Linked DNA regions of Homo sapiens. The protein of the gene in region 2 purifies or fractionates together with the protein of the main gene of each other region. This does not show direct contact. Each region holds a gene or a part of one and is shown on either strand. Other genes may lie near its edges.

The links.
Region 1: the proteins of TNNI1 (region 2) and TTC4 purify together in Homo sapiens (co-immunoprecipitation; one large-scale study listed by IntAct). This does not show direct contact.
Region 3: the proteins of TNNI1 (region 2) and MFGE8 purify together in Homo sapiens (co-immunoprecipitation; one large-scale study listed by IntAct). This does not show direct contact.

What each region holds. Positions count from the first base shown.
Region 1 is NC_000001.11:54,714,472-54,718,660, reverse strand, and holds the start of TTC4 (tetratricopeptide repeat protein 4), read right to left. Parts: upstream 2,801-4,189; 5' UTR 2,753-2,800; coding exon 2,642-2,752; intron 2,062-2,641; coding exon 1,944-2,061; intron 1,170-1,943; coding exon 1,008-1,169; intron 1-1,007.
Region 2 is NC_000001.11:201,404,731-201,408,230, forward strand, and holds part of TNNI1 (troponin I, slow skeletal muscle), read right to left. Parts: 3' UTR 1-3,500. UniProt on the Homo sapiens protein: Troponin I is the inhibitory subunit of troponin, the thin filament regulatory complex which confers calcium-sensitivity to striated muscle actomyosin ATPase activity.
Region 3 is NC_000015.10:88,906,746-88,910,588, forward strand, and holds part of MFGE8 (lactadherin isoform a preproprotein), read right to left. Parts: intron 3,179-3,843; coding exon 3,047-3,178; intron 632-3,046; coding exon 450-631; intron 34-449; coding exon 1-33.

The DNA.
Region 1 (4,189 bases), about 150 Mb from region 2:
AAATTTGAGAAACCCAGGGTAAATTTATTTTCTTGCAGGCTATCTCAGTGTCTTTAACATGTTAACATGTACTGTAAATCTCTAAGAAGCAGCATTTTCCAAACTTCCTCAATCTCCTGGGTGCGGTGGCTCACACCTGTAATTCCAATACTTTGGGAGGCTGAGGCGGATGGATCACTTGAGCCCAATTTCGAGACCAGCCCGGGCAACATGGCAAAACCCTGTCTCTACAAAAAAATGTAATAAAGTAAAAAATATGAATAAATAAATGAGTTAAAATTCCTCATCCAAGCAACTTTTTAGAAACAGGGTCTCACTTTGTCACCCAGGCTGGAGTGCAGTGGTGTGATTATGGCTCCCTGTAGCCTTGAGCGATCCTCGTGCCTCAGCCTCCCAAGTAGCTAGGACTACAGGCAGGCACCACCATGCCCAGCTAAATTTTTGGAGAGACAGGGTCTCACTATATTGCCCAGGTTGGTCTTGAACTCCTGGCCTCAGGCGATCCTCCTGTCTCAGCCTCCCAAAGTGCTTGGATTACAGGTATGAGCCACTGCACCCAACCAAAAAATATTTTTAACTCAAAGGTCCCACAGAACGCTTTGAGATATTCTCCCTTAGATTAAAATAGCTTATCTCACCTAAAGATCTCTACTGCCTTACTCCTGCTAGCATCCTTGAAAAGAGGATAAAAGGCCAGAAAAACACATTTTTTGAGAGAGTAGAAGCCCTTGGGCTCAAAAATCTCAGAACATACTGCCTCATACATCAAACACCTTACTTGAGTGACCAAGTCACTTTTTGGGTTGAGACAGTAAGAATTACACAATCCATCCTGTTTCTCTTTTCATCATGTCAACTTGGAAGACCAGAGTTCAATCAGAGTAAACTATCCTTAGTCTGGGTTTCTGGGATAACAGCCCCTCATCCTCTGATGTTCTCAAACCTCCACTAACCATCATAATGGCTTGTATCATAAGTTTATTCTTCAGAAAGCACTTATAAATTACCCAGATAGTACTGTGCTGCTGCCCGGTTGGTATAAAGGACAGCATTCAAATCAGGATCTGCACATTTCTTCTTTAAGCCTTCAGTGTATGAAATTACAGCTTTCTTGTAGTCTTTTTCTTTAAAGTAATCATTGCCCTCATCTTTATAGGTCTTGGCCTGTTCTGCAAAGAAGAGGAAAAATAATCACTATTGCTTACTTTTTAAAAGGCTCATTAAAAATAGATTCTAAATCATGTAATAATGTACTATATGACACACCAAAGCGAAGAAACCAATAGGGAAAGGAAACTCGATGTTATGATAAAAGTGGGTATCAACATGGACAAAGTCGCACAAATGTAATGCTAATTCCAAATATCTTACAAGGTAGATTACTAAGTGCTTTCCAAAAAAAAGAAGTATAAAGGAAAAAAGTACACTCATCCTAGCTGTTGAAGAAAAGAATTTTTTTTAATCACTGAAGAAATCAGTGAGGGGCAGGGGGATTGATTATACTTCTGCTTTTGCTTATGTTGTTTATTCTGTGGAGTGCAAATTCCCCTCCTCACCCTAGTAAAAGCCTACAAAATTACAAAGATTCAGCTCAAATTTCCTATCTATTGTGAATCCACTCCTGCTCCTTAAAGTGTTCCAACAGGACCCACTACAGCTGTAGTATACACCTACATGTTGACACTTATAGCATAAGTTTGTCTTGATTCTTTAAGACAAAAGGCTTCTCACTGAGCCTGACCTTGGAGGGTGGAACTGTGTCTTATTCACCCCTGTATCCCCAGTCCTTACCACTTAGTAGGTACAAAAAGAAGTATATTGGAATGAATAATGACAAGTTAGCTCAGGCTAACTACTTCTTGTTATCAATCAGAACGCTTCTAACCCACACTTAATTTCAGTTCAATGGAAACACAAAACAAATATTAGTCATGTTAAGATACCTTCTGGAGAACGCTCCTCATCAAAAATAATTGACTGGAGACAAGCCAAGTCAGGATTCTCCCTGGGATCAATTTCTGATGGCGCTCTCGACATAAATAGGGGGACCTTTTCAAATTCCTGTAAATGGTTAAGAATGAACTACATGAATAAGCTTTTCTACTGAGCAGATCCAATTCCATGACTCATTACCAAAGTTTTTTTACTCATCATGATTTGCAAATCATCACAGCTAGCTGTATCCATTCAGGCCTCCGCTTCCCTTCTGTAAAATGGGAGTGTGGTGTAATGGTCTCTAATGATTGTTTTAGTTCTCACATTCTACAAGAGCGGCAGGAATTACCATTAATTGAGCGCCCTTATGTTCTTGGCACTTTACCAACTGTCTCATTTCATCTTTGCTATTGGTGATATAGTTCGCGCAGTTTTACAGATGAGGAAACGGACTCTGAGAAGTTAAGTAACTGACTCATATCAGAGCCAGTTAAGTGGTGGAGTCACAGGCCTGACTCCAAAACCTAGGTTCTCAGCTTAAGAAGCGACTCAAAACCTCGAGGCCGATTTTCAATACTCAACTAGAAACCAGCGATCGGCTGGCAGCGCCAGGGATCTGGGATTGAAGGAGGTGCCCCAGAGCCCGGGTGCCCCACGAGTCCGGACGACGCCCCTACACACGTGGGGAGACCCCAGGACCGCCCACCTTCTCCCACTGGTCCTCATGAAAGCCGCCACGGTAAGGCTGGCTCTGGAACTTTTCCAGGAACGAGTCCATGACGTCGTCTGAGGTGGGATCCTGCCCAGGTTGTTCCATAGCTGATGCCCTGCCTTCCAGCCCGGGTCCCAGCGCCGTGAAGCGAGCGGCTCCTTCCGGCGGCGCGGGTTCCCTTCCCTCAATCCTCCCGGCAGCGCAGGTCCCCGCGCCTTGGGTTCCGCCGGCCTGGGGGCGTGGCCGGGCGTGGCCAATACGCTCCTCCCCCGGCCCGCCCTCCTCGGCAGTGCCTGGCCTCGCCCGGCCTTCGAATGCTTTTGGGGTGGTGCGTGAACCCGAATCCCCAAAGCCCCCATCTCACTTCATTCATTTGTTCGTCAGTCAGTCAACACATACTTACTTAGCTCTTTCTGCGCTTCCGGCCTGTTCTAGTGGCTGGCTATATAGCGGTGGGCAGAGCAGATGAAATCTCTGCCCTCTAGGAGTTGCTAAGGCAGTGGGGAGGAAACGACAATAGTTGAGATGTAAGAGTTTGTCAGGGGTAGCAAGAGCTATTGGGGAAAAGTTTTAAACAGGATGGGTAGACATTCTGCCAGAGGCCTGGGAGTGACTAGGAGGGGTCTGGGAAAGGCATTCCCATGGAAGGAACAGGGAACAGTCCGGAAGCCTGATGCGGGAGAGTCTTCTGTGCTTGGGGAACAGCAAGGAGGCCAGTGGGGCTGAAGCAGAGTGAGGAAGGGGGCAAGGAGATGATGAGGTGGGAGGACAAAAGGGCTGTGACTATGAGGATTTGGCTATTTCCTCAGTGGTATGGGACCTTTTGGAGAGTTTCGAGGAAAGGAGAGACTGATCAGACCTCTGTCTCTGAGCTTAGCCACCCCTAACTCCCACAGTTCAGATGGAAAAGGGTCTTCGGTCCAGGTGCTGCAGGCCTGGTTAGGCAGCCGCTGTGGCTTCCTGCAGCCTCTCTACCGGCCAGCAAATGGCTGCAGGTCCCTGCACCGGGGCTACAGCCTTGGGGAGCTCCTAGCCTGGTCTGGAATGAAAAGCAGACAGGAAGCACACCAATCTAAACTGGCATTGGGTCACAGGTCTGCTCAGTGAAGGCTCAGAGGGGTGGGATTCAAGGTGATGCAGAGCTGAGATCAGAGCTGAGGAAGGTCTCTGCAGATGGATAGAGGACTCAGCGTTTTAGGCAGTGGGAGCTCATATGTGGAGAGAGGCATGGAGGTGTGCACAGGCCCGCCATGCTGGGTACTGCAAGTGTTAAGAGGTGTGTCCAGGGCCGGGCACGGTGGCTCACGCCTGTAATCCCAGCACTTTGGGGGGCTGAGGCGGGCAGTTCATGAGGTCAGGAGTTCGAGACCATCCTGGCTAACACAGTGAAACCCCGTCTCTACTAAAAATACAAAAAATTAGCCAGGCGTGGTGGCACGCACCTGTAGTCCCAGCTACTGGGGAGGCTGGGGCAGGAGAATCGCTTGAATCCGGGAGGTGGAGGTTGCAGTGAGCCGAGATTGCGCCACTGCACTCCAGCCT
Region 2 (3,500 bases):
GTCACAAAGAGCCAGTCAGGAGAAGAGCATCTGGGAGGCACTAGTACAGGGGACACACAGGTGTCTGTGACACTCAGGGCGGGCAGACAGGTCATCACCCTGCATTCTGCATGCCCACGCATACACACCATGCTCACCCCTTCTGATGAACAGGCACAAGCGTTCACACACACGCTCCTCCCCCAGGGGCTCCCAGGTTGGAACACCTCCCCTGACTGCCAGGCAAAGCCATACCTCTCTCCTGAACCCAGGGCAAAGGGCCAGGCTCACCCAGCCTGTGCCAACCAGTGAGAGAGGCCAATGGTTGGCACTGGAGCCAGTTGGGGTGCTGAGTTGAGGCCAGAGATGGGCAGCCTGTTCAGATCCCTGGGCGTTTGCCTCTGGCCAGGAGACCAAAGCCCTGTCCACATCCAATTTCCTCAGACTGGGAGTCTGGGGACCTACTTCCTAGCTCCAGTTAGGTTTGTGACCTTGAGCAAGTCACCCTCCCTCTCTGGTCCTTCGGACATTGACCGCAGTGCTCTGGGCCAGTGCTATGGGGTTTTCGAGGCTCACCCTGCTCAGCCTTCGTCTCAGGGGACCCACAAGCCAGCCTAGAAGTGTGTCTTGGAAGGAAGAGAAAACCCTTGCCCGTCACCTTTAATGAAAGACCCACAGGCAGACAAGCTTTGGGGATGTCTGAGGAAAGAGACCTGATGGGGGTCAGGAGCAGAAGCTGCCATTAGCACTGGTCCCAGCGAACTGTCCTGGGCTTCCGCAGCTTGGTCACCCACCTGGAACGAAGCTAACCCCCCCGCCCCCGGCTGCCCAGCCCAGAGACTTGTGGGGAGTATGACTCACTTCGCGGGGGGCCATTGTGGCTAATGTTTAACTCTGCCCCTCCTTCAGCAAGGCACTTTAGCCCCAGCAGCCCTTAGCGCTGGGCCCTGCCCTGATCATGCCTGCTGCTGAGTGGGCTCAGACACACAGCTGAGCTTGGCCTCCTTGCGCCGTGGGGACCGGGCACCCTGTGGGGAAAGGTGGGAGCAACAGCTGGTCTCCCAAGGGCTCTGGGACAGGCAAGAGTGTAGCAGGTGGCATCCTGCCCTGGTCATTCCTACCAAGCAGAGAGGAGCACCAGGCCCATCTCCACCAGCTGCAGAGAGAGGGGGTGCCCACCCAGCTATTGTGTGCTGATTAGTAATAGATATCCCCCAAGTAGCACCCTATCCCTCCACTCTCAGCCAGGGCCCCATGTTGGAGGAAGGCCTCACCTTAGCCCATCTGTATGTCACCTGCATCTCCTTTGAATGTTTCCCCTTTGGTGCGGGTGTGTGGGGACTCCCCAGGTGCATATGCAGGACCCTCGACCCCCAGCTGTGTCCTTCCAAGAAAGTTGGGCTCTGTTAAGGCCAGTCTGATCTCAGAAAAGGGCAACCCCAAGGCAGAGTGACCTGAGATCTAGTCTCCAGTCTGCAGCTAGCAAACCCTGTAACTTAGAGTGAGCTACTTGAACTCTCCAGGCCTCCATTTCCTCATCTGTAAATTTGAGCTAACAAATGTACCATTTTTGTGAGAATGCAATGATATAACTCAGATAAAGCATTTAACATCACATATTACTATTATTGAAATGCTGTTATTAAAATAGTCGATAAGAGTATGGATTCTAACAGACTTCTTGGGTTGAATCCTGGGACCACCACTTATTAGCTGTGTGATCATGAAAAGTCCCTAACCTCTCTGTGCCTCAGTTTTCCCCACTGTACCATGAGAATAGTAGCTGTACCTTTCTCCTAGGGTTGTTGTGAAAGTTAAATAAATTAAGGTGTACATGCTGGTGCCTGACGCATAAGTGTGCTACATGTGTGAGCTGTTACTCAGTGGCAGGCCCCAGCTCCCAGCTCTACTGGTGTTGTCTCCATGGTGAGAGAAGACTGGAGTAGAATCAGGGCTCTCCAGAGGCCAGGCCCCCAGCCCAGGCCCCATTCTTGGCTACAACAGCCCCTTCCATAGATCCCTCTCCCACCCCCAAGCTCTCCTTCCCCTTGTCCACAGGGCCTCTCAATCCTTGCGCTCCAGATATGTCTATGCCTATATTCGCCCTTGCTCCATCCTCACAGGAGATGAATTAGGTCTGTTGCTGCCTGGAAGCAGAAGGAGGAACCCGATGACCTCCAGGAACCCTCTGGTTGGCTCTTCTGCCCCTCCTAGAGGGCCACTGGCTTAGGTGTGTTGAGTGGGCCCCACCTCCTCCTCCCATGGGTCTTCTGCACCCACGTGTTTGCTTTGAGTCAGGCCCAGAGCAGGTCTCCTGCCTTTACATGACTGGGTGGATACCCCAATCTGCCAGGGCCCCAGGTTAATAGTTGACTGCAAAACTGGGATTTGACTCTGGAACTTGGGGCCAGGCTCTAGGGAAGAGCTGGAAAGAGGTGAAACAAGGAGATCGCTTTGGATCCAGGCCAACCGGAGGAGCCCTGTGAGGCGGGGAAGAGTGGGTTTCTGTGGCTGCCTGGGCATGAAGGCATGAAGCCTAACCCCATCCTCTGTGGCCTGGACCAGCCCTGTCAGGTTCTCCAACTTCGTGCATTGAGACTGGGTGTGTCCGTGCCTACGGGTTTCTGTGTGTGATTGGGGTTGTGCTTTTTGCACACATCTGCCTCTCTGCCCACTGACCTATTTATAGCAAGAACCCTGGGCAGAGTGCTGCTTCCCCTAAGGTAGCCCAAGTTGCTGGTTCCCACTGCCATGCTTTCTGAAAGGGGCTGGCAGCCCAGCAGCCCAGAGAGCCAGACCATGCCCTGGGGAGCAGCTGGCACTGCACTTTGTACCAATTTCTGGCACTTATGGAAGATAATACATGGGATTCGAAGGTAGAATGGGGACTCAGTAGGGTGGGTAGAAGGGTTGCTGCTCTGATAACTCAGCCCCTCCTAGGGCCAGTGCTAGGGTGGTCGAAAAGCCAAGGGACCCCAGGTCTGGGAACAGCCACTTCCCTTGCAGGCTTAGCTCAGAAGTCACCATCCCACTGCCCTGAAAAGTCAGAACTTGACCGGATGTGGTCGCTCACACCTGTAATCCCAGAACTTTGGGAGGCCGAGGTGGGCAGATTACGAGGTCAGGAGTTCGAGACCAGCCTGACCAACATGGTGAAACCCTGTCTCTACTAAAAATACAAAAATTAGCGGGGTGTGGTGGCACGCACCTGTAATCCCAGCTACTCAGGAGGTTGAAGCAGGAGAATCGCTTGAACCTGGGAGGCGGAGGTTGCAGTGAGTCGAGATCGCGTCACTGCACTCCAGCCTGGGTGACACAGCGAGACTCCATCTCAAAAAAAAAAAAAAAAGGAAAAAGAAAAGTCAGAACTTTGGTCTCTGCTTCACAGGAGCCACTCTAGTGAGTATGTTGGGGGAAGAGAGGCTGCCCCAGACCCCCCTTCCACCCCAGAAGGCCCTATGCTCTCACCAGGCTTTGGACCCAGGAGGTAGTGGGATGGAGAAAGGACCTGATCCAGAGGA
Region 3 (3,843 bases), on a different chromosome or scaffold from region 2:
ACCTGTTACCCACATCCTCCGCAGCAGGTTCACCTGGACACAGGGCAGGGGAGATGGCACCCTTATCTCCTGGGTTCTTTCCACTCAAGATCCAAGCAGACCCATCCCTTCACTCCCCCACTGGGTGGGGGAACAACTCAAGCAAAACAGAGGAGGGGTAGCTGAGCACACTGCCCGCACAAAGGGCTTTCTTCTTCTGCCCAGGCCTCCAGAGGCCTCATCCAGCACCAACAGCTCCTCCACAGCCTGGGGCCTCCTCCCCCCTCACCTTGACCCCATACCAGGTTCCTCCAGGGATGCCATCCACTTACAGATACTTCATCCATGGGAACCTGTTACCTTGCCACCTGAACCCCAGTGATGAACCCTCCTGGGGTAACCCCCAAATGCAGAAACATTCATCGAGCCTTCTCTCCATTGCCCCGCCCCAGGGCCATCCCCAGGCATACCTGGATCCAGGGGTTATCGTCATTGCTGCTGGGTGTCCAGGCATTGACCATGCCTGCGCGGTTCAGGCGGGCCAGCTCCGGGACCCAATGCTGCAAACCCAAGAAGGTCACACGCACAGACGAGGCGGCGATCTGTGAGTTGGCAATGTTCCCATTCTCCAGGCCCAGTGGCTCGACACATTCTGAGGGAAGGGAGGTGGCAGTCAGGTGGCTACCCCAGCAGGTTCCCGGGCCCAGCTGGGACCCAGCGGACAAGAAAATAAGACTGTATGACCTCTGCCTAAGCCCCAGGGCCAGGGAGAACCTCAGAGCCTCTCTCAGAACAAAGACCACAAAGGGACAATGAAGGCAGTGCCCAGGACGAGGTGCCAAGAAAAGGTATGTGGCCAGGGGTGGTGAGGATGAGGGGGGTGGGCAGAGTCACGGGAGGCTGGGACCCAGGGCTGCCAGAGGATCCCAGCCAGGGTAGCACTGTGGGGACAGCCATGATTGGCACTCATGGAAAGTAGAGTCCCCCCCGCCAGGCTGTGGGAGGTGGCCTCGTTCATATAGGGCATCTGGCAGCAATCAGTCTGGTGCAGGGGTTAGACTGGTGGCACAGAATACCGGTGTGACCCCCTCTTCCTCAGTGTCCCCTCCCCCCACCAGGAAGGGACGCCATCCTCAGCCCAGCCCCTGGCTTCCTCAGGAGGGTGGCTTTGGGAGAAGGGCTACCTCGGATAGCAGTGAACAGTACCAGCACTGTACACAAAGAAAGAAGCTAATCTGCCTGGAGTTTTCTAGAATCCCACTGGCAGGAGTTCTCTGGGTGGGGCACAAATGCCATTCTGCTTTCCCTCTTTACGCCTTCCACCTGTGGGCCCTCACCCAGCCATCTGTGAACATGCCCGTGGCCAAGGCCCCACCCCCCTCACCATCACTCCAGCAGTGTGGTCCCAGGAACCCAGGACAGCTACCAGGCCCACCTACAGGCCAAGCTTCTCTCATCACCTGGGGATCCCCCCAGCGTGTGCCTGGGCCTTCCAGCTGCCAAGCAGAGAACCCACAGACAGATCTAGTCTTCCTCCAACATCACAGGCGCGGACGAGCTCAGTGTTAGCGCACTCTGGCAGGGAGGGGAACGCGCAAAGTGAGGCCAGAGCCTCAAGACCAGAGCTCGGCCAGTGGCTGAGCTGAGATTTGACCCCAGTCTGCCTCCAAGACTATCCCCATACCCCACCACGCTCACACCCTGAAGGAGTCCAGTGTGCATTCTTTGGGCCCGCAGGGTCCTTGTTGGCTCCAAGGAAACATACCACGTAAAAGGCAAGGAAGAGCTGCGAAGGTCCCTCTGAGGGCTTCCTCCGCTGTGTGGTCACCCCTGCCTTCTTCCTGGGTGCAGCCATATCCAGCCTGGGGAAGATCCCAGGCCCAGAAGCTAGAAGTCAAGGTGGGTAATTCCCACTCAGGCACACTCACTGTTACCTCAGCTCCCAGGATACTTGTTAGTGGCTCCACCTGGCCCTACCCAGGGCTCTGATTGCCTTAGCAACCCGTCCGCCAAACCATACACACACCCTTCCACCAGGATCTCAAACACATCTGGCCTCAGGGCAGGGTCCAAGGCACAGGCCCCAGGGCCACTTGGGAGGTAAAAGGCATCCTACTCACTTGACCTGCTCTCTCCCAGGGCCCCTGCTGCCACCCAGCTGGCTCAAGCCCCCCGCCCCCTCCTTCTGGAGGCCAGCAAACCTCAGAACCCATCCCCACATCTCCCTGAGGAGGGCAAGATGTCCCCTGTCCCCTACCCAAGATGCTCAGCGATTGACCTGCTGGATTCAGAAACCTAGGACCCCCCGCTCCACCCATCCCTGGGCCCACATGTGGGCAACCCGCCTGCCCCATGAGGAGTCCTAGTGGGGTGGGAGCACTAAGTGGGAGGGACTCCAGCTGGGCCTGGAGGGAGGACAGCAGGGGAACTGCTGTTGCCACCCCACCTAGGGCCATTCTGTGGCCGAGTGGATAACCAGGCAGGTCACACGCGGACAGCCCCTCTGGGCATGCAAGGCCTCTGACCACCTGACCGCGTGGGGATGGTTCAGCTGGCCCAGGCCTCTCCCTTCTCCCCGAGCTCTGCGATGAGGCTGCAGGTCAAACTTGGGCCAGGAACTGTCAGACTCTGAAACCAAGGCTGATTTACTGAGTTCCTGGGCCTCAAAAGACCAAGAATGTGTTTGTTTTCCCCTCTTAGGTAGAAAAATCCTTGCAACTTAACCCTAATGCTGTGTGTCTGGCTCATGGTGACTCAAGAAACAGCACTCCCGTGACCTCCAGGGTGACCACAACCCCTCACTCCTCTGCATCAGCATCAGGCCTGGCCGGCAGTCTCAGGAAAGAGGGCCAGGCAGAAAGAAGGAAGAAACAACAGGACCCTTTTCCCCCCTCGGTCTAACTGAGGCTCTGTCTCTCTCTCTGAGTCTCCCCAGAGGAGGCCTTGACACCTCCACTGGGGTGGGGATCACAGGCAGAGAATAAGGCCAGCATATGGCCTATGCCACCAGGGCTGTGGCTCAGGGTCTACTGCTAGAAACAGGCAACAAGCACCCCCACATACTCACTCGTCTCACAGTGGTTGCCCGCGTAGCCCTTAAGGCACGTGCAGGTGTACGAGGGGAAGACATCTCCTCGCACTTCTTGGGAAATCTCCTCGCATAAACCACCGTTGTGGCAGGGGTTTTTGGAACAGATATCTGGGGACAGAGACAGGTAAGATGAGCAGATGATCAGGAAGGAGCTGGGGACACAGGTGAGAAGTAGCAGATGGGTCCAGCCCAAAAGGACCCTCCACTCAAACTCGCCCATTATCTCTTCCTCTCCCTCTTCCCCCGTGTGCTGGATGGAGCCTGAGTCCGCCTAGAGCCAAGGAAGTCCATGTGTAGGCGAATCGGCCCACATAAGGGAAGCGCCCAGCTTTCCAAGTGGCCTGGGAGTGTCCAGAAAAGTGCTGGCTGACAATGGCAGTGGTGCTGGGGACCACTGCCCACTGGTGGAAGAGCTGGCAGCTGGGGTCTGGAGAGGCAGGCAAGGTCCAGGGCAGGTCTCTTGGCAGCAGTTTGATTGCAAAGGAGGCCCATGAGGACTTTCAGGCAGGGGCAGTGGAAGGAAGCATTGTTCTGGCCCATTGAGCAGGTTCCGCCCACCAATTCAGGCACAGGTTGCAGTCACAGATGTCACCTCCAATGGCAGCCCTGACTCAGGAACAGCACGATGATCATCCAGGAAACACTGGGAGGGCCAATGACCATGCTAGGCCCCCGAGACAGAGAAATCAGATGCAGCGCAGGCCTCAAGAAGCCAAGGGGAAAGAGGCCAGCAAGTCCACAGATGAGGAAGATTGCCCAACGCTCCAGAAGCC